Linked DNA regions of Homo sapiens: region 2 is linked to region 1. Evidence: fine-mapped expression QTL. A gene starts in region 1. The other region holds a variant in brackets. All regions are shown on one strand. Distances are from middle to middle. Region 1 holds the start of SOCS3 (suppressor of cytokine signaling 3). Region 2 overlaps LINC01993 (long intergenic non-protein coding RNA 1993).

Evidence for each region.
Region 2: its variant is fine-mapped to the expression of SOCS3 in whole blood (INTERVAL, PIP 0.99).

What each region holds. Positions count from the first base shown.
Region 1 is chr17:78,353,861-78,368,576 of GRCh38, forward strand. It overlaps SOCS3 (suppressor of cytokine signaling 3), which reads right to left and starts at 6,217. Exons shown (of 2, transcript NM_003955.5): 1 at 5,890-6,217; 2 at 2,918-5,323. The coding sequence starts at 5,235. The coding sequence ends at 4,558. It overlaps SOCS3-DT (SOCS3 divergent transcript), which reads left to right and starts at 6,588. Exons shown (of 5, transcript NR_110847.1): 1 at 6,588-6,913; 2 at 8,813-8,891; 3 at 13,333-13,406. RefSeq lists enhancers at 720-1,221, 2,420-2,919, 2,977-3,626, 5,573-6,221, 9,579-10,156 and 4 more and silencers at 2,654-2,841, 5,329-5,568, 5,979-6,258, 6,269-6,578, 6,639-6,838 and 1 more.
Region 2 is chr17:78,249,261-78,263,976 of GRCh38, forward strand. LINC01993 (long intergenic non-protein coding RNA 1993) reads right to left here. Exons shown (of 7, transcript NR_073178.1): 6 at 13,987-14,716; 7 at 12,089-12,653. LOC105371910 (a long non-coding RNA gene) reads left to right here. Exons shown (of 2, transcript NR_164160.1): 2 at 1,962-3,231. It also overlaps the pseudogene THA1P. Among named protein-coding and RNA genes, the nearest start is that of LINC01993, 22 kb to the right of the region's middle. RefSeq lists enhancers at 4,143-4,861, 4,862-5,579, 5,130-5,399, 8,704-8,753, 8,764-9,083 and 4 more, silencers at 4,950-5,099, 9,494-9,543 and cis regulatory regions at 7,297-7,755, 9,255-9,843. The variant G/A (reference allele first, on the strand shown) is at 8,655.

The sequences.
Region 1 (14,716 bases):
TCTGTTATGGGGTATGGGATGAGGAGAGAAGGGAGCCGGTGCTGAGCAGAGTCATCTGGGGGAGAGATTCTTTCCTGGCCTTCCCAGCAGCTTGTTGTGTGGGCTTGAGCATGTTGCTTCCCTTCTCTGGGTCTCGGTTTCCTTGTCTGCAAACCCAAAGGGTTGGTCCAGTCTGATCTGAAATGGAAAGACACACCAGGCGCGGTGGCTCACGCATGAAATCCCAGCGCTTTAAGAGGACGAGGTGGGCGGATTGCTTGAGCTTGGGAGTTAGAGACCAGCCTGGGCAACATAGCAAGATCCCATCTCTACAAGTAGTACAAAATTTAGCCAGGTGTGGTGGTGTGTGCCTGTAGTCCCACCTACTCAAGAGGCTGAGGTGGGAGGATCGCTTGTATTCTGGCAGTTGAGGCTGCAGTGAGTTGTGATCCTGCCACTGCACTCCAGCCTGGGTGACAGAGCTAGACCCTATCTGAAAAAAAAAAAAAAAAAAAGAAGAAGAAGAAGAAGTGGAAAGACAGAGGAAGGTTGGGATGGGCAGTGGTCTGGAGGAGGGAAATGAGTCTTCTTGCCTTTGCAACTCCACAAAACCAAGTTTCAACCTCCCTGGGGTGGGCAGGGAGAACTACTTCCTCCCTGGCCAGAGAAGATCAAATTCTTTTGCTAGCATTCTGTGAACACTGGACAACCTGGCTAAACAGCTGCCTTCTGGGTCAAGCACAGGGACCCAGTGGCTGGGCACAGTGGCTCATGCCTGTAATCCCAGCACTTTGGGAGGCTGAGGCTGGCAGATTGCTTGAGTTCAGGAGTTCGAGACCAGCCTGGGCAACATGGCGAGACCCTGTCTCTACGAAATATACAAAAAAAAAATTAAAAATTAAAAATAACTGGCCGTGGTGATAATGTGCCTGTAGTCCCAGCTACTCAGGAGGCTGACGTGGGAGGATTACCCAGACGTGGGAGGTTTACCCAAACCCGGGAGTTCAAACCTGCAGTGAGCTATAATAGCGCCACTGCACTCCAACCTGGGTGACAGAGTGAGACCCTGTCTCAAAAAACAAAAAAGTACAAGGACCCCAGGTTCACGGTTCCCTCATGGCTGTTATTCCAGTGAAAGGGGAACTCTGTGCAGCTGAAGGCAGTGGTGGCTGACCAGCAGACCCCAGGGCGAGGAAGACTCATCATCCTTCTGGAAGGCACTGGGGAGCCACACCCCACTGGGCCCCCTCACCTGCACTTGTGCTTTGGGAAGGTGGCCCTACCTGGGTTTACATTGCCAGTCTGGAGTTCCTTCATGATGCCTGTGGTGTGGCTCCCATATGCTCTGTCCCCTCAGCCGCCTCGTGCCTGGCCTGGCCCCTTCTCGTCACTTCAGGTCATTTTCTCCAAAAGTCCCAGGAAATAGGAAAGAAAAACGACTTTGTTTATTTACTCTCTGTTGCCTTTTGGACCCCGATTCCTGGAGCAGTATATTGGGTGCAAGGGGGCCAGGAAGAGGCTCTGGTATTTGTGTCATCTGAGAGAGATAAGGGCCCCTGACTTGGGGTTAACACTCATTTCCCAGCTGTCAGGTCACGGGGATCAGAGAAGGAGGCATGAAAGGAGAATACCTCAGAGAAGGTGGTTTTGTTTTTGTTTTTGGTTTCTGTTTTTTAAATGGAGACAGGGTCTCGCTATATTGCCCAGGCTGGTCTTGAACTTCTGGGCTCCAGCCCTTAGCCCACCTCGACCTCCCAAAGTGCTGGATTACAGGAGAGAAGACGTTTTTTGCTATTAGAAGAACCCTAGTGCTGAAACCCCAGAGTTGGGGGGAAGGGTACTAACCTCTTGGCTTTTAAGGAGGGACTCACTCCGGGGGCAGGTATATGCTGAGTGTATAGAGAGGCAGAGAGGCATGGGCTTTGGAAATCAAATGCTCCTGGGTTCCAATCCTGTTTTCCCCATATTCCCAAGTGGTGTGCCCTTGGCCAGGTTGCTTAACCTCCCTGAACCTGAGTTGCTGCCCCTACTTAGTTGACAAATATTTACTGAGCACCAATCTAGGCACCAGAAGTGACCAGTCCAAGTCCTGGCTCACATGGGGCACGTGGCCATGTCTGAGAACATGGGGATGAGAATGCCTGCCTTGTGGGAGCAGGTGGGATGCTTAATCCAGGTAACCTCTAAGTGCCCCTTAGTGTTTAAATGAGAGTGACTAAAAATAGATGGGCTGAGGGGAGGATACCTTCAGCCCGGGAGCTGGAGACCAGCCTGGGCAACATAGCGAACCCTGTTTCAAAAAAAGAGAGAGATGAATAGATGGGTGCTTTTTGGGAGGAGGGTGATCCTGTCCGCTGCTCAGGTTGGGGCCCCTAGGAACGGGGAAGGGAAGCAGGCATGGGGAGCAGTGGCCAGGAAGCCCCTGAATGCCTGGGGTCCTGTGGTGGGGGAGGGGGTGGGGCTCCACCTGCATGCAAGATTTGCTTCAGGACCACCCCTCCCCCCACTTCCAGTGAACCTGGCTAGACTGAGGTCATAGGTCACCACTAGGACCCCATGTCTGGGCTTTCTCGGAACGACTCCCTGCCAAGGAACCAGAGCGCCTCTAATAGCCTGGAGCCTCTAAAAGCTTTGACCACAGCTCAGCTTGCTCCCTGCAAGCCCTTTGAAGCGCTTCCTTCGAACTTGCTTTGCATATTCTGGTCAGATCTGAATCAGACTTGCAGGAATTACCCCTCTCGGTAAGTCTAGGTGGCTGCCTTAGCTTGTCAGTGACACACGAGGCAGGCGTGCTGACGTAAGGCTGAGACGTATTCGATTCCACCCTCTGCGGCTCTCTTCCTCCTCTCCGATGCAGAGTGTGGGTGTGGGTGAAAGAGAAAGCAAGGCACGGGGCGGGGGGCGGGGGGGCAGGGGTGCAGAAAAGGCTCAAGTCATGTTTTTCATTAAAAAATAGTGCTCTTTATTATAAATTACTGAAATGTTTCTTTTCTGAATATAAATATAAATATGTGCAAAGTTTGACTTGGATTGGGATTTTGTTGAGTTCTTCAAGCATCTCCTAATAGCCTCAAGGGCCTGAGTAGGGGGGAGGAGAGAGGACTGGAGGTGGAATCTTTATAAAAGACAGAGTGATTGAGGCAGATTGTAAACATTATTAAAAAACAAGAAACAAACAAAAAAATAGAGAAAAAAACCACCCCAACACACAACTGCCCTGTCCAGCCCAATACCTGACACAGAATACTTTGTGTTTGTTTAGTTGCCCCCCCCCACAAAAACAAAAACAAAAACAAAAACAAAAAACTGTTCCAGGTAATTCCATCGCTGCTACATTCCTGTAAATTGTCACTGATCAGTGCTATGGCAGAGCGGGAGCACCCGGGGTGGCAGCAGTCCAGCCTCTCCAATGACCTCCAGCCTCCCCCACCCAGGCAGGAGGGAGGGCTGTGCAGGGCTCGGGGCAGTGGGACCTGGTGGCTCTGCTCTGACCACGAGGCGCCTGACTGGCCAATACTTACTGGGCTGACATTCCCAGTGCTCAGCTGGGAGGCATGGGTTTCCGCCCCCCCTCCCCACTTCCCTGGCTGTGGGCTGGCTTGGTGCCCTCCAGTGAGTCCCTCAGCCTCTCCACCCATCCAGGCTGAGTATGTGGCTTTCCTATGCTGGGTCCCTCTCCATGGGACAGGGAGCATTTAAGGCGAATCTCTTAGCCAGACATAGTCAGGAGGCACAGAGTAGAATCCCCTGTCTTCTCTACCAGGAGCCTGAGGTGAAAGATGTCCCGTCTCCTCCATCCTCCCGCTCCATCCACCCAGGTACAGGAAGGTATAGTATGAGTAGGAAAAGGAGACCAGCTGACCAGCCCATCCATCCCCTCCAAATGTTGCTTCCCCCTTAAAACGGAGGAAGGGCCCTGGGCTCTCAGGCACCAGGTAGACTTTGGAACCTGTGTTTTCGGTGACTGTCCCGGAGGAGAGGATGTGGGGTACCAGGATGGTTCCCTTCAGGTCACCCCAAGCCCTTCTCCCCGGAGCCAGGGAGAGGAGCATGTCACCAGGATCCTCGCCTGGGGTGGGCGGGGGGTGTGACCATTTCCTTCGCCAGCCCGCAGCCCTGGGGCCCTCAGGACCTCTCTCTCTTCCACCTTTCCCAGGCTCCACAACCAGCTCAGGTTTAAACCAAATCAAAGAGCAAACAAGTTCCGTTGGAAAGTTTGAAGATTCCCTGGCAGTTCTCATTAGTTCAGCATTCCCGAAGTGTCCCCTGTTTGGAGGCAGAGGGGAAGCTGAGGAATTGAAGGAGAATCCACTTGTGGTTGCTATCGTCCCACCAGGACAGCTGGCTCCTCCGGAGAAGCTGGAGACTCAGGTGGTACTCCCCCTTCCCTCCAACACATTCCAGGTCCGCCTGCCACATTCTGCAGGGAGAGGGCAGAGGGAGGGGCCTGTCCGCCCTCTTTCCCCCCAGAGCTACAGGACTCTCTCCTGGTTGGCTTCTTGTGCTTGTGCCATGTGCCACGGAGGAGAGGGGCCTGCGTCCCCTCTCCCGACCCATGCCCTTTGCGCCCTTTACCCCTTAAAGCGGGGCATCGTACTGGTCCAGGAACTCCCGAATGGGCCCCGGCAGCTGGGTGACTTTCTCATAGGAGTCCAGGTGGCCGTTGACGGTCTTCCGACAGAGATGCTGAAGAGTGGCCACGTTGGAGGAGAGGGGCCGGCTCAACACCAGGGGGATCTTCTCGCCCCCGGAGTAGATGTAATAGGCTCTTCTGGGGGGACTCCCAGGGAGTGGCTGGGCAGACGGCTGCTCGGGCACCTCGGAGGAGGGTTCAGTAGGTGGCGAGGGGAAGGAGGGGGCTCCAGGGGGCGGCATGTAGTGGTGCACCAGCTTGAGCACGCAGTCGAAGCGGGGCACGGGCTGCGTGCTCCGGGGATCGCTCTGCAGAGAGAAGCTGCCCCCCTCACACTGGATGCGCAGGTTCTTGGTCCCAGACTGGGTCTTGACGCTGAGCGTGAAGAAGTGGCGCTGGTCCGAGCTGTCGCGGATCAGAAAGGTGCCGGCGGGCTCGGCACTGAGCAGCAGGTTCGCCTCGCCGCCGGTCACTGCGCTCCAGTAGAAGCCGCTCTCCTGCAGCTTGCGCACTGCGTTCACCACCAGCTGGTACTCGCTCTTGGAGCTGAAGGTCTTGAGGCGCAGGCTGGTGTCCAGGGGGCGGCTCATCCCGGCGGCGGGAAACTTGCTGTGGGTGACCATGGCGCACGGAGCCAGCGTGGATCTGCGCGGCGGCGGCTGCAGCTGCTTCGCGGCCTCCGCACAGCGGCCGCTACCGCATCCCGGGGGGCTGCGGAGAGGAAGGCGCGAGCGCGTTGAGTGCCCGGAACCCTCCAGCGCGCCCGGCCCGCCCCGGCTCCCCTGCCTTCGCCGAGCGACTGGGGCACCCACTGCCCCGGGGGCCCTCTCCTGGGCCCGCGCTCCGATCCAGGCGCCTCACGGAGCCCGCACGGCTCCCGCCCCTGCCGGCAGGGTGGCCCCGGGCAGCCCCTTCCCAGGCGCGCACTGCAAGGGCGCAGCGTGGGAAACTCGCGCGCGGAAGTTAGGTCTCCAGGAGTGTGGCCGGGTGGGGAGCAGGAGAAGGGCCCCCGGGACTGCCTGGGCGCCGCTCAGTCCAGTAGCCCCGGGCGGTGTGGACGGAGGGAGAAACCCGAGGCACGGGGGTAGGGAGGGGACAGGAGAAGCCCGAAGGCCCCAGCCGGAGTATTCCGGGAACCTGGGATCTCCGGCTTCCATCCGCTCTGCCCCTACCTCGTCACCTCCCTGCCGGGAATGACCCGGGAAGGGGAGGGGAAACCGGGAAAAGCTCCCGGGACTGAGCGAGACCCCTCCCCACGCCGCGCTCCTCCTTCCTACCTGGTCCCGAATCGAAGTCTCCGTCCTTGGGGCTGAGCCCCCTCGGGTCCCCAAGGCGACGCGGCGGCGAGACGGCCAGCGGTGGCCCGCGCTGCGCCCAGATGTTGGCGGCCGTGAAGTCCACAAAGGAGCCTTCGCGCGCGCGTCCCTCGAGCTTCCCCTGGGCGCCCGCCCTGCCCCCTGCGCACCCCCGGACCAACCGGGAGGGGACCAGGAGAGGGACCGCGGCAAGGGGCCGCGGCGGGAGCTGGGCCGGGCGGGCGGCTGGCGGCTGGCTGCGTGCGGGGCCGAAGCGGCAGCAGCGGAGCAGGGAGTCCAAGTCGGAGCCGCCGCGGAGGCCGCGCTCGCGGGTATATAGGCGGCCGCCGCGCCCCGCCCCCCGATTCCTGGAACTGCGCGGCCGGCCTTCTTGTAATGTTTAGTCACTACTCGCAGCAGAGAAAGGCTGAGCGCGGAGGGTGAGGGAGGGGCCGCGGGCGCCGAGGGCGGGCCGCGAGCAGGGGCAGGGACCGGGAGGGACGCGCGCGGAGACAAAGCGCGACGAGAGGCGGCCGAGGCGGCCGGTGGGCGCGGCGCCAGCCCCGGCGGCGCGTTCCTGGCAGCGGCCCCTCCCCGCCGCGCGCTCCGCCCCCAACTTCTCATTCACACTTTCCCCCCACCCCCCTCCCTTCTAAGAAGGCTGATTTCTGGCAGAGGCGGGGGCGCCGCTTCGGGAGAGCGGGCAGTTCTAGGAGGCCGACCTGGAGAGCCTCCCGGTTCCCCTTCCCCTTTTCCCGGACCCCGCGGGGACACCCCCTCGCCGCCACCCGGGCCTCCCCGAGGGCCCAACTGCGGGTCAGGCGGCCCGGGCCAGCCGAAAGGGAAGTGGGGCTACCCCACAGCCAGGCAGCGGGGCTGGGGTCAGACCCGGGAGCCGGAGGTTGGAGACGTGCGACAGTCACCTGCGGGCAGATTCCAGAGGGGAGACCCAGGGCTGCAGGGGACGCCCCTTCGTGGCAGCTACCCAGCCTCGGCCCACTGCCAGGTTCTTTGCCAACCCTGACGCGAGTGTGGAGCCCCCCTCCCCTCCCCTATGAAAACGCTTTCATGCACTGGGGTCTGCAAACCTGGTTGGTCCGGTGTGGGTTGGGCCAGGTGCTCTCGGCCGGGCTGGAGAGCTCGAGGTGGAACGATGGCCCCAACCTACGGCCCGCGTCCGCCAGAGGGCGCCCTGGGGTCTCCTAGGGGAGGGCAGTTTGGTGCTGCGCGGCCCAGGCCTTGGAATAGGCACGCCAGGGATCTGCGGGAATGGCTGTCTCCGGAGCTGGAAAGGTGGCCGAGAAGGGGGCATTCACACCCCAGGCTGGGGTCAGACCTGGGAATAAAATTCTAGCAGGAGAGAATTTCCGGAAAGCAGTTTTCCGGGGTTCAGGCTACTGCCAGATGGCCCACACCCCCTGGAATGTGACCCCCTGCCTCTCTTGGGGTGGGGGAGGACTTGATCACTGGCGGGGAGGGGGTAGAGGGGAGGAGAGGAAGTGATTGAGGTGAAAGATTGGTTTGCTGCTGGTCACGTTGGCACTGACGTAGATAGTTTGGGCTTGGAGACCCGGGGCCAGCCTTATGAAGGATGGCAAGTTTTGTCATCTTGTCCCCAAATGGGCTGTGTGGTGCTGGGGACACCCGAGAGCTGCCTCAGTGGCATTTAGATTTTCACCTCTCGGGATGCAGACGCTGTGGGCCTGGGGCCCTGCGCTCTTCCTAGATACCAGGATAATGAGGTGCTGAAAGGGAAGGAAGAGACTGCCGCCAGGGACAGGGAGCTTGGGATGCCAGAACCCAGAACTGGCCCTTTTGCCGGCCCTGGAATTGATAGGTGCGCACTGCCTTTGCCACTGTATCCTCAGTCCGTGCCATCACCTCTCCCCAGCATGTGCTGGGGACTCAGTGAGATTTGGACAAGACACACAGTTTCTCTGGGCTTCCGTTTTGCCACCTGTAAAACTGGAGCCAGAACCTTTTCCTTCCCTTTGGCAGGCGGAGGCGAGAGGATCACTTGAGCATGGACATTCAAGACCAGCCTGGGCAGCAAAGTGAGCACCCCCATCTCTGCAAAAAATAGAAAAAAGTTAGCCAGGAGTGGTGGCCTGTGCCTGTAGTCCCAGCTGCTTGGGAGGCCAAGGTGGAAGGATCGCTTGAGTCAGGGAGGTCAAGGCTGCGGTGAGCCATGATCGTGCCACTGCACTTTAGTCTGGGCAACAGAGTGAGACCCTGTTAAAAAAAATAATAATAAAATGAAATAAAAAGGGCCGGGCATGGTGGCTCATGCCTGTAATCCCAGCACTTTGGGAGGCTGAGGCGGGTGGATCACGAGGTCAGGAGATCGAGACCATCCTGGCCAACATGGTGAAACCTCGTCTCTACTAAAAATACAAAAATTAGCTGAGTGTGGTGGCACATGCTTGTAATCCCAGCTACTTGAGAGGCTGAGGCAGGAGAATCGCTTGAACCAGGGAGTCAGAGGTTGTGGTGAGCCGAGATCGCGCCATTGCACTCCAACCTGGCGACAGAGCTCTGTCTCAAAAAAAAAAAAAAAAAAAAAAAGAAAGAAAGAAAGAAAAGAAAAGGAAGAAAGAAAAAGAACCTTTTGCCATAAGAGATTTGAAATTAAAAAAAAAAAAAGATTCTGCACATCAAAGCGTGATAGAAATAGAAGTAACCCAGTTAGTTCAACTCTCCCTCCAGCCTATCAGGAGAGCAGAGGAGGAAACTGGTTTATTCAACACATTTCACAAATATTGAGCTCCATGCACCAGGCACTGGGCTGGGCATTGATATATAATGATGAGTAGGACCTGGTCTTTGCCCTCACAATGCTTGCAGGGTAATGAAATGGATTCTCCTTCTCTCTGTAATCAGTTCATTCTTTTTCTCATCCATTCAGTGTTACGTGGCTGCATGACCATACACTTCTGGGTAGAGCCCAGTGGAAGACAAAGAAGACTCAAGGAATAGCCCTTGAGGTAATGGATGAGAAAGTGCTTTGTAAATTACAATGCTCTGACACAAGTCAAGTTCATTCATCCATTCCATAAACCTCTGCCGAGAGCCTGCTTTTGCCAGGCACAGGGCGAAGTGCTGGAAGACAGAAGTGCTGGGTGAATCCTGCAGGGGGAGATGGCCAAGGCAATCGGCATGGAGCCCCCAGGTGATGAGTGAGGTGGGAGGTGCGGGGCTCCCTGCCTGCTCATCTCAGCAGGAGATCCAACTGCTGTTCGGGCTCTATCACCCAGTAGCTGTGTGACTTTAGGCAATCTGCCTTACCAGCTGTGCCTCGGTTTCCTTATTTGTAAAATGGTTGGAGAGTAGTACCTACCTCACTGAGTTGTCTGGAGCTCCCACATGCAAAATGCTTAGAGTGGTGCCTTGCACATAGGAAGTGCTCAATGCATATTAACTGTCATGATTTTGAAAGCACTGGGGAGGCTTTGAGGAGAGGGAGGAGTGAGCTGAGCTGCTGCAGCTTGGGCTCATAGGGTTGGCTATGGATGTAAGCTGCCTTGTTTTGGGGAACCGTACATCTCCTATGGAAGATACATTCCAAAAAGCTGCTTGTCTTGAAACAGGTCAGCCAGCCACCAAGCTTCTTTTTTTTTTTTTTGAGACGGAGTCCCACCTGTCACCCAGGCTGGAGTGCAGTGGTGCCATCTCGGCTCACTGCAACCTCCGCCTCCCAGGTTTAAGTGATTCTCTTGCCTCAGTCTCCCGAGTACTTGGGATTACAGGCATGTGCCACCATGCCTGGCTAATTTTTTTGTATTTTTAGTAGAGACAGGGTTTCGCTATGTTGGCCAGGCTGGTCTCGAACTCCTGACCTCAGGTGATCCGCCTGCCTTGGCCTCCCAAAGTGCTGGGATTACGGGCATGAGCCATCGTGCCTGGCCTTCCCTTTGGCATTCTAATCTCTCCCATGGTTTCCCATCACTTTCTGGATGAATCCAGACTCCTCGGTGCAGTGTGTGTCCCACGCTGCTCCATGTCAGTTTCATCGGCTGCCACTGCCTCAGCGACTGGTGCCTCGTGCTCTAGCTACATGGAGCTCCAAGCTGTCCAGAAGGTAACGTTCCTCAGTCCTGGGTTTCTGCACATTTGCTTCCCTGTCTGGGGACAAGGAGGGAACTACCTTCCACACCTTGGCTGATTTCTACTTTTCCTTTAAAATTTGGCAGACGGGCTGGGCGTGGTGGCACGTGCCAGTAATCCCAGCACTTTGGGAGGCCGAGGTGGGAGGATTGCTTGAGCTCAGGAGTTTGAGACCAGCTTGGGCAACATAGTGGAGACTCCATCTCTACAAAAAATTTTAAAAATTAGCCGGGCATGGTGGTGCGCGCCTGTGGTCCCAGCTACTCAGGAGGCTGAGGTGGGAGGATCGCTTGAGCCCAGCAGGTAGAGCCTGCGGTGAGCTATGATTGTGCCGCAGCATTCCAGCCTGGAAGACAGAGTGAGACTCTGTCTCCAAAAAAAAGACGGAAAAAGGCAGACACTCTAAACTTCCAGGTAGCTCTTTTTGCATTAACCAAAATGTTCTGACTATATCTCCAGTGAGGATCTTGGGGAAACAGACTATATTTGATTTTTTTTTCTTTTTAAGACTGGAACCTGGTACGTAGAATGAATCTCTAAGTCAAGGATGATGTTGACTTCTTTCCATTGTTTTTAGAGACCACAACCTGCTTTCTTCTAGAGTACTTTTTGGTTTTCCATGCAGGGCTCAGGAGCTATACAGATGGGATAGAGGGTGTGAGTGCTGGGAAGCCCCATCCATGGCTCGCTGGAGATTAGAGGCCTGTTAATCTGAAGACAAAGGAATGAAGACGAAAACGTTTCTGAAAATGTGGGTGGAGACACCTGGGCCTTTACAGGGTACGCTCCAGAGCTGCTTCCAGGCAGGGACCCCGGCTGAGAGAAGCCAGAGCCAGAGAGTCGCAGGCTTGCTTGCTCTTATCTTCCCTCTGCTGGGGGGGTCGAGGGGAGATCTGGCCCCTCTGCTCTGCCCTCCTGATTTCCCGTCTAAGGGATTTAGGAGACTTTTGCCTTTTCCTAATCTCTCCCTTTGCAGAATTTCTGCGAAGTCACAATCCCATTTCCAGGCAAAGGTGCTTGGTCATAAAGATAATAAAGATATTCATTCATGATGGAGGGGAAGTACACAGTGGTTTCAGCTGCCTGTAGGGCTCCACTTACTCATGGTGTGTGACAGATGCTGAGCCCTTCCCCAAATCTCATGGATGGGAAGGAAACCTGGCGCCGCGGGGTGGTCGCGGGAAGCCGTGGCATGGCTTGGTGAACACAGGCTCGCCGACCCGGGGGCGGATGCTGAGGTTGCCATTGTTGGTGGCTGCATCTGCAGTAGACGGGTCGGGATGCCGGCCTCAGACCACAGCGTTGCTAAATGCCAAACCCAAGGCCTCCCCGTCTTTAACACTGCTGGGCATTCTACAGCGCAAGGAGGCAGCTGGGGCTGGACTGCCCAGTGCCTGCCGTTGACTGTGCGTCTTCTGCCTGTGAGCTAGCCTGCCACACCTGGGGATACACGGTGGGGAAATCAATCAGCTTCCCTCCCTTCTAGAGCTTCAGGTCCGGCGTTGGTGTCTAGAGGCAAGGGGAGGAGGCAGGGAGGCCTCTTCTTTTCTGTCCCCCTTTCTCTTGGCCAATTTGGAGGAGATGGTGGGGGACCTGTCTCTCATCTGACCTCCTGGAAGCCCTGCCTGCTGCTCCAGTGTGGCTCTCCCAGGGCTGAGGCCTGGAACCTAGGGCTGGGCTACCTGGGGTGCTCAGCTCTGCCGCACCCCAGCCCTCCTCGGCTGCAGCCCTGGCTTCTTTTCTTACCCACTGGGATGGCCCGTGGGACTAACCTTGCAGCCTGCAGGACTATGGCCCAGATGACCTTTCCGGAGCAGGGGAAGAGTTCACAGGTCTCAGACCAGGTTGACCCCGAGCCCTCTCTTTCCTGCTTCGCATAGGGGCGGGCCAAGGGAGGCAGGGACAATGGCATTCCTGTTTGCAGGCCTTTGTTCCCGCCAGGAGGGCCCCCGGAGCTAATAAAAAGGTTTGTGGCTCCGATGTCTAAGAGGCAGTGGAGGAGTTCTTTCAAGCCTGACATTCCAGGCCCAGCCGGCCTCTGGCATTTCCCAGAAAAACTTCGAGGAGGGGAGGGGAAAGAAAACACTTGAGGGACCCACCCACCTACCCACTGCCCGCCTTCTCGGATTCCTCGTTCCCTCTGGGGATTGGGCTGGGCCGGAGTGCCAGGACCCCTGCCCTGGGGGGCCCATTCCTCCACCCACAGAGGGGCCCTGGGAAGTGTTGAGAGGGTGAGAGTGGGTAAGTGGGGGGTGACTCTAGGAGGGTGCAGAGAGGATGAAATGTTGGGGGCGCAGTGAGAAGAGGAGGAAAGTTTCTTCCCACTTTGTCAAAAAGGAATCCACATCTGCTACAAGTTTGGAGTTGGAGGGTGGGGAGTGAGGAGTTAGCTCCTAGCCAATATCTCCTCTGACCCCAAACCGACAAATGCTGCTCTGTCCGAGGCTGGGGTGGGAAGAGTTTTTATTTGCCCTGAAGCAGCTGCGGGAACAGACATCAGGGCAGCAGGGCAGTTCTGGGAAGTGAGGCTGTGGTGAACCATCTGGGCGGCAATGCAGACGAGGCAGTGCCCAGGACGGGGAGAGCCCGGGAGGGGGCGAGGAGGCCATGCTGTCTCTGGGAGACGTGCCTCTTGGGATGTCCTGGGCCCAGGCGCCCTTGGAGAGGCAGGAGCTGGTGGGGGACCAGCTGAGTGCAGCTGTTCGGCTCGCCCTGCAATACTGCAGTTGGGCTGGCTGCTGGAGCCAAGTGGTCACGGTCAGGTGCCCTGACTCTCCTGGGGCTCTGGGGCAGGTGCTCCTCATGACCATGGTGTGCCTGCAGCCTCTGGTCAAGCTCCTGCAGCCCGGGCGCAGGCTTCCTTCTGAGCCTCTCACCCTCTGGGAAGTCCCTGCCTCCTCCGCAGTGTGAAGCACCCCTGGTATGCACTGTGCCGTGCACTGATTCTTGGGCAAGTTCAAATAGAAAATGATAGGCTGGGTGTGGTGGCTCACGCCCGTAATCCCAGCACTTTGGGAGGCCAAGGCTGGTGGATCACCTGAGGTCAGGAGTTCCAGACCAGCCTGGCCAACATGGTGAAACCCTGTCTCTACTAAAAATACAAAATTAGCTGGGCGCAGTGGCGCATGCCTGTAATCCTAGCCCCTCAGGAGACTGAGGCAGGAGAATCGCTTCAAACTGGGAGGTGGAGATTTACAGTGAGCTGAGATTGTGCCATTGCGCTCCAGCCTGGGCGACAAGAGCAAAACTCCGTCTCAAAAAAAAGAAAAATGTAAAAGCAAAAGAAAAAAAGAAAATAATACCCTCTCTCTGGCTCCCAAGATCCTGAACCAACTTTGAAGGCAGAGAAGTGGGCTAGAAGAAGTGGGGTTGGAGCCTCCACCAAGGACAAGAAGGTGAGACTCTAAGGCGTCTAAGGTGAAACTGGGGCAGCTATCCCCACGTGTTCCTTCCTCCCTCCCCCTTGCCGGCACTGTACTCACTGGGCCTTAGGCTGGTGTTGTTCAGAGTTTCTTAACCTGGAGCATGTGAACTGCCCCTTCCCAGGTTTCATACTCCCCCAACAGCCACTCCCCCGATAATTGCAAACAAAATGCTGGTGGAGGGTCAGGCCCCTGGGGGCTGCAGGACCTGCCTGGAGTCACTTCTTGCCCCTGCAACACTTGTTTTTTGTTTGACACAGTATCAATCTGTTGCCCAGGCTGGAGTGCAGGGGCGCAATCTCAGCTCACTGCAACCTTTGCCTCTGGGGTTCAAGCGATTCTTCTGCCTCAGCCTGCTGAGTAGCTGGGATTACAGGTGCACACCACCACGCCTGGTTAATTTTTTGTATTTTTAGGTAGAGACGGTGTTTGCCATGTTGCCCAGACTTGTCTCGAACTCCTGAGCTCAGGCAATCCACTGGCCTCGCTCTCCCAAAATGCTGGGATCACAGGCGTGAGCCACTGTGCCCAGCCATAACACTTATTTTATACTACCATTTATTCCTTGAGTAGTTATTTATTTATTTATTTATTTGAGACAGAGTCTTGCTCTGTCGCCCAGGCTGGAGTGCAGTGGCACAATCTTGGCTCACTGCAACCTCTGCCTCCCGGTTCAAGTGATTCTCCTGCCTCAGCCTCCTGAGTAGCTGGGACTACAGGCGTCTGCCACCACGCCCGGCTAATTTTTGTATTTTTTAGTAGAGACGGGGTTTCACCATATTGGCTAGCCTCCTGACCTTCTGATCCATCCACCTCAGCCTCCCAAAGTGCTGGGATTACAGGCATGAGCCACTACACCTGGCCTTGAGTAGATATTTATTGAGCACCTGCTATGTGTCAGGGATTGAGTTAGGTGCCAGAAATTTATCAGTCTCGGATCTCATGGAGCTTAGATGTTTTTCCAGAAGGACAAGATTCTTCCAGAATTATATCGGGATTGATTAATTTTGACTGTGCTGCATACTATGAAGAAGTCCCAGGAGCTATGTGAGCCTATTATGGGGAGACCTAATCTATTGGGGGGACAACCAAGGGGGATTCCCTGAAGAAGTAACACACGTAGGCTGATGGGAAGCTGAGGTCTAGAGAGGTCCCTGCCTGGTGCGAGGTCTCCCAGTCAGATCGTGGCAGAGCTCCAGCTGGTGCCCAGGTTGGTTGACTAGACTCCCAGGCTTTCCCCACACACAGGCTCGTCTGGCCTCCCTCCAGGCCACTCGGTGGCA
Region 2 (14,716 bases), 100 kb before region 1:
AGGGTGGGGCGTCCTGTCCAGGCACCTTGGGTGAATCTCTGGGCGTTCCCATGGTCTTGCCACAGTGCCTGCTTTGTGTCAACCAGTCCCACCAGGGCCACCGCAGCCAGCATCCCCACCTGGTGCATGCTTCCACCCAGGGCTTTTTGGAGGCGCCAGGCTTCTTCAATGAAGTCCTTGGGCCTCCCAGCCAGGGACCCCACTGGGGCGCCCAGGCCCTGGGAGGTGGAGAGGAGAGACTCCTGCCAGCTCACATCCCTGTCCTTGGGCCAGGGTGGGGACAGATGCGTAGCCCCATCTGCAGAGGTGTTAAAGGGGAACCTGGGGCCAGCTGCCAGGGATGGAGCTCAGGAATCCAACCCTGCCTCCTGCTGGGGCGCCCCACCCCACCTGTCTGTGGGAGGCCAGCCCAGGGCTTTCCCACCTTGGAGAGGCAGAAAGACACAGAGTCACAGTGCTCCACAATGTAGGTGGGCGGGACATGCAGGGCCAGCACCACGTTCATCAGCTGGGCCCTGTCCAGGTGGACCCAGGCCCCATAGGTCTGGGCCAGGAGGTGCACCTGGGGGTGAGGTGCAGGCAGAGTCAGAGGGGCCAGGCCTGAGGGAGGCATAGAGGGAGGAGGGTCCTGGGCTTAGCTGCCTGAGGAATCAGGAGGGATCAGGAGACCTGGCTGGTGACTGGCTCTGGTGATCTGGGACCCAAGCAGTCAGGCTGTGCTGCCTAAGCCTCCATGCTGGGCTCTGGGAGGATCTGGGGGTGCACATTTAACCCAGCTTTGTCGCACACTGAGCATGGGCCAAACGACCGTGGGCCAAGGGTAAATGTGTGTCACCTCATTTAGGCTGCACAACAACTCGAGGGAGACGCCGCTGCTCCCATTTCACAGGCAAGGAACGCAAGGCTTGGAGAGTTAGGCTGCTGCCTAACTAGTGTCTGGTAAACAGCAGAGCTCAGACACTGCGGCCTCCTCACCTCGCACGTGGGTGGCAAGGACCAGGTGGAGGGCACTCACACGAGCTTGTTCCTGCAGCCTCATGGGGCACACGTTTCTGCGCCAGGGCAGCAGGTCCTGGTGCTGCTCTGGGACTCAGCTCTGGGGACTTGGGGGTGGGGGCATCTCTGCTGTTGGGCTGGTGCAGGGACTAGGGGCCCTGACCTGGGGTAATAATTCCCTTTGTGTCTCAGCCTAGGACCACACATGTGTCCTTCCTGTGACAGGTCTGGCCGCTGATGGGTGCCCATGGCATAAATCAGAGGGGACTGAACCCCAGGATGGGCCAGGGGCACAGGAAGCCAGGATCAGGCTGGTGGGGGGCACACAGTGGTGGGGCTGGGCCTACCTGGCGTAGGTAGTTGATGGGGAGGATCCGGACCCCCGAGATGCTGTGTGAGTTCTCCAGGCAAATGAGCTCGCAGACCTGGTGGTAGGGACTCTGGAGGCCCCGCGTGATCATCCTCTCCAGCTCAGCCAGTCCAGAGTGCAGTGGGGCAGCTCTGGGAGGGAGTGGGAGTGCACTCCAGCCCTCTGTGGGTCAGGAAGAGGATGAGGGCTGAGGGGTCCAGGGGCACCTCTTGGCGGAGTGGGGGGCTCCTCTGGAGTAAGGAGCCAGACCCTGAGTCCTGTGTCTGCTCCCCCGAGGCCTGGGCCTTGGAGCCTTTCCTCTGTTCTGTGCATCTAGACAGACGTCCCAGCTGGGGGGCACTGGGCCCCTCCCCTATTAACTCTTCAGATGCTGCTGTCTGGCTCCCGTCGGGAGCGCGGGAGTGCTCCGAGTGTCCACTAGAGGGCACCAGGCACCAAGCACCGCCCAGGTGTCTGCCCGGCAAGCCTGGGGCCAGCCCCAGCCGCTGCCGCCCCCACGTGGCAAATCTGGGGCTCTGCTCTCCTTCCTTCCTCCCCTGGAGAGGCTGCCATCCCAGCCAGCTTCTCCATGGCTGTCCCTTTCTCCCCTCCGCAGGTCCCAGCCTGGTGCCTGGGAAGGGGGTTTGCCCCTGAGCAGCCTGTGCTGGCTGGAGGATGCCCAGGGCCCCAGGTGAGCAATGCCTGCTCCTTACCTGAGCCACCCCACCCTGCTCATAGACGTGGAGGTGGCACTCCTGCCCAAGGAGGAGCTGGGAGCCCCGGCGCCAGCAGTGACACATCACTGAGACAGAAGGAGGGCAGGTCTTGGCATTGAGTCTGGAGGCATGTGGCCCTGCTCAGCGTGGCTAGGCTGAGCCCTAAGGCTACAGTCAACTCACAAATGCCTGAGGCCGGCAAGGAAACAGCACCTTCAAGACACCTCAGTGCTACGTGCCAGAAGACCATCCCATTAAACACACAAGTCTAGGATAGCTGTGCTGCGCTGGGAATCGCTGGGCCACACCCAGCCTGCACACCTGCGCCTGGAGGCCCCTCCACAGAGCATCGCCTGCTGGAGAAGCTGCTGCAATGCTGCTTCTTGGTGGACACGCAGCCGAGGCACCTGCAGTCGTCAGACCCTGGCAGGAAACAGACGGCACACACACACTGGGAAACTGGCAGTGTTTAATCATGGGACGGTTTATAGAGGGGAGGCAGGAGCAGGGAAGCCCGGAGAACAGGCCTGAGGGGTGAGAGGAAGGTGTGGCTGCAGGAACCCGGAGCCAGGGCTATGTGGAGAGGTCCCTGACGCTGGCCCAGAGGCCCTGGGGACCCTCGGAAGAGGAGCTAGGGAGGAGCAGACCTGCAGCCCCCACTGTCCTCCTCCCCCATCTCCTTCCAGGGCTCCCCACCAACCCAACAGAAATGGAGGAATGTGGTCCATGAGTGTCAGAGCCCCCCCATATGCACTGAGGACCTGCTAGGCAGACAGAAGTCGCCCTGCGCTCACCAGAGATGAGGTTGGCCATAGTGTTGGAGGGCACAAAGAGGGTGCGCCCCAGCCCTAGCAGCTCCACAGCCATTTCTTGCAGCTCTGCGGAGGGACAGGGAAGCCGCTGTGCTTGCACACTCGGGTGTCAGCACCGTCCATGCTGCTTTCCCTGTGTCACTTGGGCCAGAGCACGCCCTGAGCCCAGGTGAGGCCCCTAGCCCGAGGCTCCGGTGAGCAGCTGAGTGGGTTTGGAGCCCCATCCACCAGCTGCACACTCTGTGGGCTTAGCAACCACACATCCAGCCCCACAGGGCCCTCAGTCAACTCTGCACCCCACCTACCCTGGGCCATGGCCTCTCCCCGCTCCCCCCAAGAACCTCTCTTGTGGTTTGAACCTGTCCCCGGCAGACCTCACACCTGTCTCACTTCCTTTCCCCTCAGCCCTTTGCAGGTGGGGCCTGTGGTTTCTCTGCTGACTTCCTTTCCTCGTCAGGAGGGATGAGTGGGGGGCTGGACGGGGTGTGAGGGTGCAGCTGGAGGGTGAGGAAGGCTCCCGCTCTTGCTGTAAAGCCCACTGTGGTCCCCCCAACTGTGGCATCAAGTCCTTAGCATGACACTCAGGGCTGGAGTGACCTGGCCTCTGCCCCCCCTCCTCAGAGCCTCCTGCACTCTCCACACCTGCCACATCCCCACCTGCGCCCTGAAGACCTTTCTCACCAGTCTGCTTCTGCTCCTGAAGACCCCTGCCCTGTGAGCCGGCGCTCCCTTCCCTGCCTGGGATGCTTCCACTCAGCCTGCAGGAGGGCTCCTCTGTGAAGCCCCCTTCCCCGTGAGCCACAGCCTCGCCCCATCCTCTGCTTCCCAGGGCACCCTCTCTAGACTCCCATCAACTCAAGCGCCTCCCCAGCCTCTCCTTGAGCGGCAGTGACTTGTTGACATGTGAGGCTGCCTGGGAGCATGGAGATCAGCATCTCCAGCAACGCTGGGCAGCAGCTGGATACATGCTTAGCCCCAGCCATCCCTTAACCCCTTAGCAGACGGGCCCTCGGGATTCAACTGGTGACCCCATGGCTTGTCCTGGCCTAGCTGAGGGGTGTGCACACCCCAACAGTCAAAGTGGTTCACTATGGCAACTCACAACCCAGGGCTGGGGCTGGGGGTCGCTGTACCCTGGAGACACTCCCTAGGTTATTAGAACCCACTCCTTGCGAGGTGCAGCCTGTAGAACCTGCCCCTTTCTACATCTATTTTCCATTTGCCTTCTGTGGGGGAAGGCAGTGCAGGAGAACAGTTGTGGGTTTCAGAGTCAGAAGACCCGGGTTCAAACCTTGGTTCTGCCATTTACTAAGTATGGGGCCTGGAGCGCCTCCCTCCACATCTCAGAACCCTCCTCTGCAAGACTGGACATCACCCATCTCAGGGGGCAGCTGGGTGACAATGCAGGACACACACAACCACCTGGTGAGCCTATAGAAATGCAGGTTCTTCTCGGCAGGCCATGTGAATCTGCATTTCTTTTATTTATTTATTTTTATTTTTATTTTTTTTTTTTTGAGATGGAGTCTCGCTCTTGTCGCCCAGGCTGGAATGCAGTGGGACGATCTCAGCTCACTGCAACCTCTGCCTCCCGGGTTCAAGTGATTCTCCTGCCTCAGCCTCCTGAGAAGCTGGGATTACGGGTGCCCACCACCACGCCCAGATAATTTTTGTATTTTTAGTAGAGATGGGGTTTCATCATGTTGGCCAGGCTGGTCTCGAACTCCTGACCTCGTGATCCGCCTGCCTTGGCCTCTCAAAATGCTAGGATTACAGGCTTGAGCCACTGCGCCCGGCCGGAATCTGCATTTCTAACTTTCAGGTAACAGCAGCACGCACGCAGACGGCAAGCCTATCCTGTGGCAGGTGTTCATTACACCCATTTATGTCGGAGGTTGCAATTTTTTGAATTTTTGCCATCAGACCTTGGCGATGACCTTGAGCAGTAGGACATAAATACCTCCCAGATGCTTAGCGTTCCAATAATGGAACACTAGGCATAAATGGGTTTTAAGCGCCAAGGGAGCCACTTCCCCTGCGTCCCAGACCATCACGGACAGCGCTCCGCTGCCGCCTCCACGACCCCCGGCCTGCACGCCGGTCTTCGCCGTAGTCGTCGTCCCCCACGACCGCCTCGGCCATGACGCACCTCATGGCCGGCCCGGGCCTGGTCACCTTGTCGCTGCGCAGGCCCACCACGTAGGCTGCGACCCCCGCGCTCCCACACCCCGCCCGGAGCGCCCCATGTACCGGGGCCGCCGCTCGGGCCAGTCTGCGGAGCATGGCGCGGGCAGCGCCCGACTCCCCACCCCGGCGGGAGCTGCTGACTCCTCTACTCCCCAGCGAAGGCGGCGAGAGCGACGTGGTCGGTGCGGCCAGAATTCCTAGAGCTGGGAAGCAGCCGCCCTGGGCCGGGGGTCCAGGGAGCGAGCCCCGTGGCACGCTGGGAGTTGTAGTTCGCGCTCCCTCGCGGCGGGCGTGCGCGAGCGTCTGCGAACGGGCCCCGTGGCACGCTGGGAGTTGTAGTACGGGCTGCGTCGCGGCGGAGAACCAGCGAGCCCGTGATGCTGAAGCAGAAGGTTCTGCTCATTGAAGGAGAAACCGAGGCCGAGCGAGTGTGTGTGTGTGTGTGTGTGTGTGTGTGTGTGTGTGTGTGTGTGACAGAGTCTCGCTTTGTCGCCCAGGCTGGAGTGCAGTGACGCGATCTTGACTCACTGCAACCTCCGCCTCACAGGTACAAGCAATTCTCCTGTCTCAGCCTCCCGAGTAGCTGGGATTACAGGCGCGCGCCACCACGCCCAGCTAATTTTTTTTTTTTTTTGTATTTTTAGTAGAGAGGAGTTTTCACCATGTTGGCCTGGCTGGTCTCGAACTCTTGACCTCAGGTGATCCACCCGACTTGACCTCCCAAATTGCTGGGATTACAGGCGTGAGCCACTGCACCCAGCCCTGGGCGAGCTTTTATAACACAGACGCTCATGTGGCACTTGCCATGTGCCAGGCTCTGCCCCAGGCCCTTTGCAAATGTTAGCTCAGTTAAACCTCCCAACGACTCTAGGAGACAAGCACTATTGCTATCCCTGTCTTGCAGATGGGGAACAGGAGACGCGGAGCTAACGGACAGCTGGAGGCCACTTGGGTAGGAATTGGTCCGGGCGGGGTACCGCTGTCTCCAGAGGGCAGCCCTAAATCACTGTTTCATGCTGCCCCTAAAACACAGCTTCCCTCGTTTACCATCTTCAGTATTGATTTGTTGAGCAAGTTCGGTGCGCCAGGCAGTGTCCAGGTGTCCAGGTGCCAGGCTGGGGGACAGGGCTATGTCTCCAGCCGGGTTCCAGTCTAAGGGGAGACCGCTAAAAGAATGCGTGGGGAGCCCCTCCTCCATAGGCCCCTGCCCCTGGGTGGACTGCCTCCATGGGGGCAGGGTGGTGCTGAAGTTCAAGCCAGCTGTGTGGCCTTGGACAAGCCATGTAGCTTCTTTGTGCCTCGGTTTCCTCAACTGCAGATTGGGCTGTTGTGAGCATTCAGTGACTGGATATGTGTTTGGTGCTGACCCCAATGCCTGGCTTGCTGTAAGCTCAGGGTGGTCACCCCACTGTGGCTGTTTTTTAATTTTTTAAGACAGGGTCTCACTCTATCCCCCAAGCTGGAGTGCAGTGGTGTGATTACAGCTCAGTGCATTCTTGACTTCCTGGGCTTGGGTGAACCTCCCACCTCAGCCTCCCAAGTAGTTGGGACTACAGGCAAGTGCTACTATGCCTGGCTAATCTTTCTGTGTTTTTCGTAGAGACAAGGTCTTGCTGTGTTGCTCAGGCTGGTCTCAAGCTCCTGAGCCCAAGTGATTCTCCCTCAGCCCCACAAAGTGCTGGGATTACAGGCGTGAGCCATCACGACCTGCCCAGCTGTGGCTGTTATTATCATTGTCGTTACTGATCCCAGCTTGGAACTCTGAGGGCCCGGGGGCTTTGGGGTGAACTCTGACACAGTCTAGACTGTGGGGTGCCCTTCCCCCACACAGGGAGCACAGGCACCCATTGCCACTCAGCGGCTCCTCTTCCTCTTTCTGTCCCCCATAGGAGAAAGATCCAGGAGGGGCCACAGCTGCTGGGCCAAGCGTCTGGTGAGGGTGGCCCTTGGTGAGGAGGACACCCATCCTAGATCAGTCATGGCCAGGCCTTTACCACAGGCCAGCTCCAGGTCAGGCCTGGGGACTTAGGGCGAGCAGAGGTGGCCTGCCCTCCAGAGCTCAGGTCCCAGGGGTGGGGGACAAGATGCTGGCCGTGAGAGGATGGCAGCGAGGAAGCAGCTCTAACAGTCCCAGTCCAGGCAGCAGGGCAGGCTTTTTGGAGGAAGCAGTGATTAGGCTGAGCTTCGAAGATGGAGCCGACTTTGGACAGAGGGATAGCAGGGGTGAAGCCTCTGGGTAGAGAGGAGCTGCTGCGTTTGTGGCCCTGAGGGCCAGCGTGGCTGGGGAAGTGAGCAGGGGTGGGGATGGAGCCCAAAAGCTACATCCGGGGCCTGATGACCTCTCAGGGGCTCTCCATCTCTCTTCCTTCAGCTTGGTGGGAATTGTAAGTACCCGCAGGGTCAGTGGTCCCAAGGACACCCATGTGATGGACAGGCTTGCTGCCTTCCCCTCCCCAGAGCCCTTCTGGGCCTGACCCACAATCTGCACCAAATTCCTGCCCTTAGAAAACAAGCCCCTTATCTCATTGTCTGGCTCCAGACCTTCTGCTGGGAAGTAGGGGGCGGGGAACGGAGGCCTCTGTGGGAAGGAAAGGAGGTGGTCTGGCGGGGCAGGGACTGGGGGCAGGGATAGCAGCGCTCAGGGGAGAAGGGGGACAAACAAATGGACCCCCGGCCCCTCGAGCTATGGCAGAATCACAGAATGGCCTCCTGTTTGCCAAGCTTCGCAGTCTGCAAAGCCTGCCCTCTGCAGCTTCCCTGCCAATGGTCCCAGCGGCTTTGCAGTGGAAGGATGGGCAGGGAGGCTGGGGTCACAGAGGCCCGAGGACCCTGCCCGAGAGGCACAGCTGGTCACCCAACAGGGCCTTTCTCCCTTTCTCCCAAATCAGAGCTGTCTCCCCAGATAGGTGGCCTCTCCCTGGGGGAACCTGGGGCAGAACAGTTTCCTTCTTCTGGGTCCTCCTATCTAGTCCCCGGGTCACCTGGGCCAGCCCTGCCTTGTCCCAGTGGGGTCTGACAGTGTGGAGGAGCAAGAAGGGTGGGCTCTCACACGGAAAGGTGCAGTGAGGCCTGTGGCAGGTGGACCCCATGACCCCAGCTTGGCCTCTGGGGGGTTGTCTGGGCTCCTACATGTGTGTGTGTGCATGCGTGTGTACATGGGTGTGTGTGTGTGTGTGCATGTGTGTGTGCGCACGTGTGTGTGTGTGACCCTGGCTGCAACTGAGATCTGAGTTGTCTTGCTGGTAAGCTGGGGACGGGCCGCAGTTCCCAGGCTGGGATGAGAAGCCCAAAGCCCTCTGTGGAGCCAACTCTACTTGCCCCCACCCCTGTCCCAGCACTGACCCTCTTCCCTCCCCTCTCTGCAGTTCTTCTTGACATTCTCACTAGAAGGGTCACCATCACTGGAGGTCCTGGGGTCATCTCCTGCCCCAACGCAGGCTGGCCCCACCCCCACATGCCAGCTGCTCCCTTCTCTCCTGAGCCCCTGCCCCCCAGGACTGACCCCTGCAGCCCAGCCCTTCCCAAACTTCTGAGCTCCTCTGTCCGTGGGTGCAGTGGGGCCCCTCGGCGGGGCTTCCTCCCTGGCCTCTGTGG[G/A]ATCCAGCCCTTCTGCCTCCCAGACGCCTCCCCGCCCCACACTCTGGCTTGCAACACTTCTGTTCCCGAATGCGCTGGCCTCTCTTTCACCCCGAGACCTCTGCACCTGCATTCTGTCTGGAAAACCCCCAACCGTCGGCACGCATCCCTGGTCACCACCTTCTAAGTCTTCAGATCTTAGCTGAGACGCCTCATTCTCCATGAAGCCCTCCTGGCCCAGCCCAGTGGGGGATGGAGGTAGCCCTCCTCCTGTGCTGCCTATAGCACCTTTTCTTCCCACTGCGCACGGGTCACAGCTGCCTGTTTACTCCTCTGACTTCTCCGTGTGGCTGATGCCCTGTGCCTGCAGGGCCCAGACGCCCTCCTCCTTTGGTGTGTCCTGCATGCCTAGCCCAGTGCCAGGACCACAGGACTCAGTAAACACCAGCCAGGTGACTGACAATGGAGGGACATGTGGTTCGCCATCCCCTGCCCCTGGGACCCCCCAGGCAGAAGTGTGCACACCCCCCAGGGTGTGAGACCCCTGTGCAGAAGGACATGGCGAGGATTCCAGAGGAACAGGGGCTGGCCTGGCCTCAGCCTCTCAGAGTCAGGTCTGGGGGTCCTGAAGACAGCCCCCTCCCTGGCCTTCTTGAGAGATTTGCGGCTCCCCTGAGCAGTGGGAGGCCACTGGGCTGGCTGGAGGGGGCCTTGCGACATAAGCCCCAGGTGGGCTGCCTTTCACGGCGCCCCCGGCTCCCTGGCACCCGCCCAGGCGCAGGCGCTGGGGTGTGGGCACACACTCACATGCTGAGTTCAGTGTGCGGATTCCTGTAACGCTGGGCTGCTGGCAGGAAGTGCGCGCCGGGGAGGCTGCTGCTGGGAACCCAGGGCTGGCCCCGCTGAGATAAAGGGAGGCAGCAGATCGCAGCTGGAGATAGCGGCCCTGGGTCCTGGTAAACAGGTGGGGGGGGTGGGGGGGGGGAAATGTCCTTTCCATCCCATCCTCTTGGCCCTGAGCCTGCAGGATCTATAGCGCCCTAGCCTAAGCCCAGCCCCGATAGCTTGGGATCCAGAGGGGAGTTGTCGGCACTGCCATCATCATTCCCAGCCTGGGGGACTGGGTGGCAAAGGACAGGGCGCTGGGCCTGGGGGCCTGGCTGGGCCCATGGTGGGCATGCACTTGGCCCACGTGGGGGCCACTGGGTGTCAAGGTCATGTGTGCTGTTGGGAGGGTGGGAAGGGGAAGGGAGGGAGCTCCTCCAAGCCCCTGCACTTCCCCAACTGGGACCCCCTAGTGGGAAAGATGTCCCTCTCCAGGTTCGCCTTCAGCACCATCTCCGGAAATCCAGAGTGAGGTGCCATGAGGGTGCGAGACCGGGAGAGAATGGGGGGTGGAGTGAGGGGGGCGTGAGGGCTGTTCCCCAGCCAGGTGCAGAGCAGGGGGGCTACAGAGCTGGGGAGACCCTGTGCATGACTTCAACAGGAAGCCACAGGATGTTCACCTGCACTCCATCAGCTCACCGTGGGCTAGCGGGAGCTCGGCATGGCCCATCCCCAGTGCCCAACACAATGGGCGCTCAAATACACTTGCTTGTTTAAAAAATTAAGAAATTTACCACGCATACAGAAATGCTCATGAAGCATATTTGTACAGTGTTATGAATAAATACATATAAAATAAACTCCCGTGCCATAGCCACTCAGACCAATAAATAGTCCATGGTGGGGCGTGGTGGCTCACGCCTGTAACCCCAGGGCTTTGGGAGGCCAAGGCGGGTGGATCACCTGAAGTCAGGAGTTCGAGACCAGCCTGGCCAACATGGAGAAACCCCGTCTCTACCAAAAATACAAAAAATTACCCAGGCATGGTGGTGGGCGCTTGGAATCCCAGCTACTCGGGAGGCTGAGGCAGGAGAATCACTTGAACTCGGGAGGCAGAGGTTGCAGTGAGCCGAGATCGTGCCATTGCACTCCAGCCTGGGCGACAGAGCAAGACTGTGTCTCACACACACACATACACACAAACACAAACACACACACACACAAAAGAAATAGACCATGGCCAGGATTCCAGAAGCTTCCTTCCTATTTACAACCCTTCCCTCTGCAGAAGTTACTGCTGCCCTGACATTCTTCTTCATATATATATACACATATACATATACATACACATATATGTATACATATATATACACATATATATACACACACACATAGATAGATAGATAGATAGATGATAGATAGACAGATTTGAGATGGAGTCTAACTATGTTACCCAGGCTGGTTTCGAACTCCTGGACTCAAGCGGTCCTCCCACCTCTGCCTCCCAAATCTCTGGGATCACAGATGTGAGCCACCAGGCCTGGCCTGGCCTGACTTTTATGACCAGGACTTGCTTTTCTTTATGATTTTGCCACCGTAGATGTATCCCTTAATAGCAGTTGAGTGTTGAGTGTGGCCTGTGTGTGAACTTTACAGAAGTCGAATCAGGGTGTCTCCTTTTATGTCTGGCTTCATTAGGCTGTTTGCAAGAGTCACCCGTGCTGTGGCTGTCATTTATTCTCTGCTGCCAGGTACTTTTCCACTGGGTCCCTAGAGCATAGTTTATTTCTCCATTCTACCTGTTTAGGGACATTTGGGATTTTGTTTCCAGACTGGCCATGTACGGTGGTGCTGGTGGGCATTCTTATTCCTGTCTGCTGGGGCACAGGTGCCTGCTTCGGGAGGGCGGACGCCTGGCGGTGGGGCTGCTGATTCTGGGGTCTCTCATCTGCAGCTTTACTAGGTGTGCCAAATCCTTTCCCAAAGTGCTGGAAATGCCCTCCTCCCCCACTTTCCCACACTTCTCCATCTCGGTAACACTAGTGTTATCAGACTTCTTCATCTTAGCTGTCCTTGTGATATGTGGTGATATCTCCTGGCAATTTTAATCTGATCTTTTTTTTTTTTTTTTCTTTGATGGAATCTCACTCTGTCACCCAGGCTGGAGTGCAGTGACGCAATCTCGGCTCACTGCAACCTCTGTCTCCCGGGTTCAAGCGATTCTCCTGCCTCAGCCTCCCGAGTAGCTGGGATTACAGGTGCCCACCACCACGCCTGGTTAATTTTTGTATTTTTAGTAGATGGGGGTTTCACCATGTTAGCCAGGCTGGTCTTGAACTCTTGACCTCAGGTGATCTGCCTGCCTCGGCCTTCCAAAGTGGTGGGATTACAGGCATGAGCCACCGTGCCTGGCCTCTTTTTTTTTTTTTTTTTTTTTTTTGAAGAAACTGAGTCTTGCTCTGTCACCCAGGCTGCAGTGCAGTGGTGCAATCATAGCTCATTGCAGCCTGAACTCCTGGGCTTAAGCAATCCACCCCCATCAGCCTCCCAAGGTGCTGGGATTATAGGCATGAGCCACCACACTGGGCCCTGCTCTTTCTGTTAACTGCTAAAGGAGAGTACCTTTTATTATTTATTTATTTATTTATTTATTTTTTGAGACGGAGTCTCGCTCTATCGCCCAGGCTGGAGTGCAGTGGCGCGATCTCGGCTCACTGCAAGCTCCGCCTCCCAAGTTCACACCATTCTCCTGCCTCAGCCTCCCGAGTAGCTGGGACCACAGGCGCCCGCCACCATGCCCGGCTAATTTTTCTTGTATTTTTAGTAGAGACGGGGTTTCACCGTGTTAGCCAGGATGGTCTCGATCTCCTGACCTCGTGATACACCCGTCTTGGCCTCCCAAAGTGCTGGGATTACAGGCGTGAGCCACCGCGCCCAGCCCCTTTTCTTATGTTTTAGCCGTTTGAATTCCTCTTTGTGAAGAGCATGTTCTGGTCTTTTCTCATTGACTGGTCAGGCTGGTTGGTATGTGCAAGCATACTGATCCTTGCGGGTTCTGTGCGTTGCAAAGATTTCACCCCAGGGCTGGGTGCAGTGGCTCATGCCTTCAATCCCAGCACTTTGAGAGTCCAAGGCGGGCGGATCACAAGGTCAGCAGTTCGAGACCAGTCTGGTCAACATAGTGAAACCCCATATCTACCAAAAATACAAAAGATTATCTGGGTATGGTGGTATGTGCCTGTAATCCCAGCTACTTGGGAGACTGAGGCAGGAGAATCACATGAACCCAAGAGTCAGAGGTTGCAGTGAGCAGAGATCGAGCCATTGCGCTCCAGCCCGGGCAACAGTGCGAGACTCCATCTCAAAAAAAAAAAAAAAAAAATTTCCCCACAGTACAGCTGCGGTGGCTCTCGCCTATAATCCCAGCACTTTGGGAGGCCAAGGGACGGGGATCACTGGAGGTCAGGAGTTCGATACCAGCCTGGCCAACGTGGTGAAACCCTGTCTCTACTCAAAATACAGAAATTAGCCAGGCGTGGTGGCACATGCCTGTAATCCCAGCTACTGGGGAGGCTGAGGCAGGAGAATTGCTTGAACCCAGGAGGTGGAGGCTGCAGTGAGCTGACATCGAGCTACTGCACTCCAGCCTGGGTGACAGAGTGAGACTCTGTCAAAAAAAAAAAAAAAAAAAAAAATTTCCCCCGTGCTGTGGTTTGTCTTTTTTTGTTGTTATTGTTTGAGACAAGGTCTGACTCTTTTGCTCAGGTTGGAGTGCAGTGGTATGATCATAGCTCACTGTAGCCTCAACCTCCTGGGCTCAAGCAGTCCTCCGGCCTCAGCCTCCAGAGTAGCAGGGACATACCACCATGCCTGGCTATTTTATTTTATTTGCAGACATGAGGTCTTGCTATGTTGTCCAGGCTGGTCTCAAACTCTTGTCCTCAAGCAGTCCTCCCAACTTGGCCTCCCAAAGTGCTGGGATTACAGGCATGAGCCACTGCAGCTGGCTGGCTTTTCTTTTTCTTTTCTTTCTTTTTCTTCTTCTTTTTTTTTTTTTTTTTTTTTGAGATGGAGTCATGCTCTGTTGCCCAGGCTGGAGTACAGTGGTGCGATCTCAGCTCACTGCAACCTCCACCTCCCAGGTTCAAGCGATTCTCTGCCTCAGCCTCCCCAGTAGCTGAGATTACAGGCACCGACCACCACACGCAGCTAATTTTTGTGTTTAATAGAGAGGGGATTTCACCATGTTGGCCAGGCTGGTCTTGAACTCCTGCTCTCAAGTAATCCACCCGCCTTGGCCTTTCAAAGTGCTGGGATGACAGGTGTGAGCCGCTGCACCCGGCCCCGCTTCTGTCTTTAGATACGGTTGCAAGCTGTGGTGTGTGTGGACAGGGGAATGGGGACTTAGGGATTGGGCTGGGGGGACCCTCAGGAACCCCTCTACTGCCTTCCAGGTGTCCCCAGCTTGGGCTGAGACCAGGGCACCCCCTTGTGCCTTCTGCCCCCACCTGCTCCCTCCTGGGCCTACCAGCCTGCGGCCGCACTGGCTGCTGACAGCTGGGACGCTGGGGTCTGGCGTTATTTACTGCGGCAGCTTCCTCCTCCTTCCAGGAACTTGTCCTCTAACTTGGGGCGGCAGCGAGGCCTCTAATCTTTCGGATCTCGTTTACCGGCATTGGCCTCTCACTTCCTGTTGCTAGGCCTGGACCGAGGCACGGGGTCAGCTCCGTGCACTGCGCCTTGCCTGTTGCCGGGGCCTCTGTTCTGGCCCCTCGGCAGGGAGGACAGAGGGTCAGATGCCGGGCCTCAGGCACAGTGGCCATCTGGGGTAGGGCCAGCTCCACAGAGGCAGGGGACCCAAGGCTGAGCCGGCTGTGGGCTCTGCTTCCTGGAGTCCAGGGTCCAGCACGGGGACCAGGTTATTCCTTCGCTCCTCCTGGCTTGGCAGAGCGTCATGGAAGGTGGCCTTCCCCAGACTCCCCCACATCCCCTCCTCCCACTTCTGCAGCCACCAGAGCCAGGGCCCTTGTGGGAAAGGACAGGGAAGTCTCAGGAGTTTGGGCACAGACAAGATCCCTGGAGACCGTGGGGTCTGCTGCCCTGGAGATGTGGAATCCCAGGCCTTGCCCACCTCCTCCACCCTGGGTGGGTTCCCCAACCACCCAGAGGAGTGCTGGCATCTCGGGGCCACCAGGGCATGGGCAAGAGTGGCTGCCCAGCCCCTGCCAAGGGCCTGAAGCCAGCGCCAGGCAGACCCT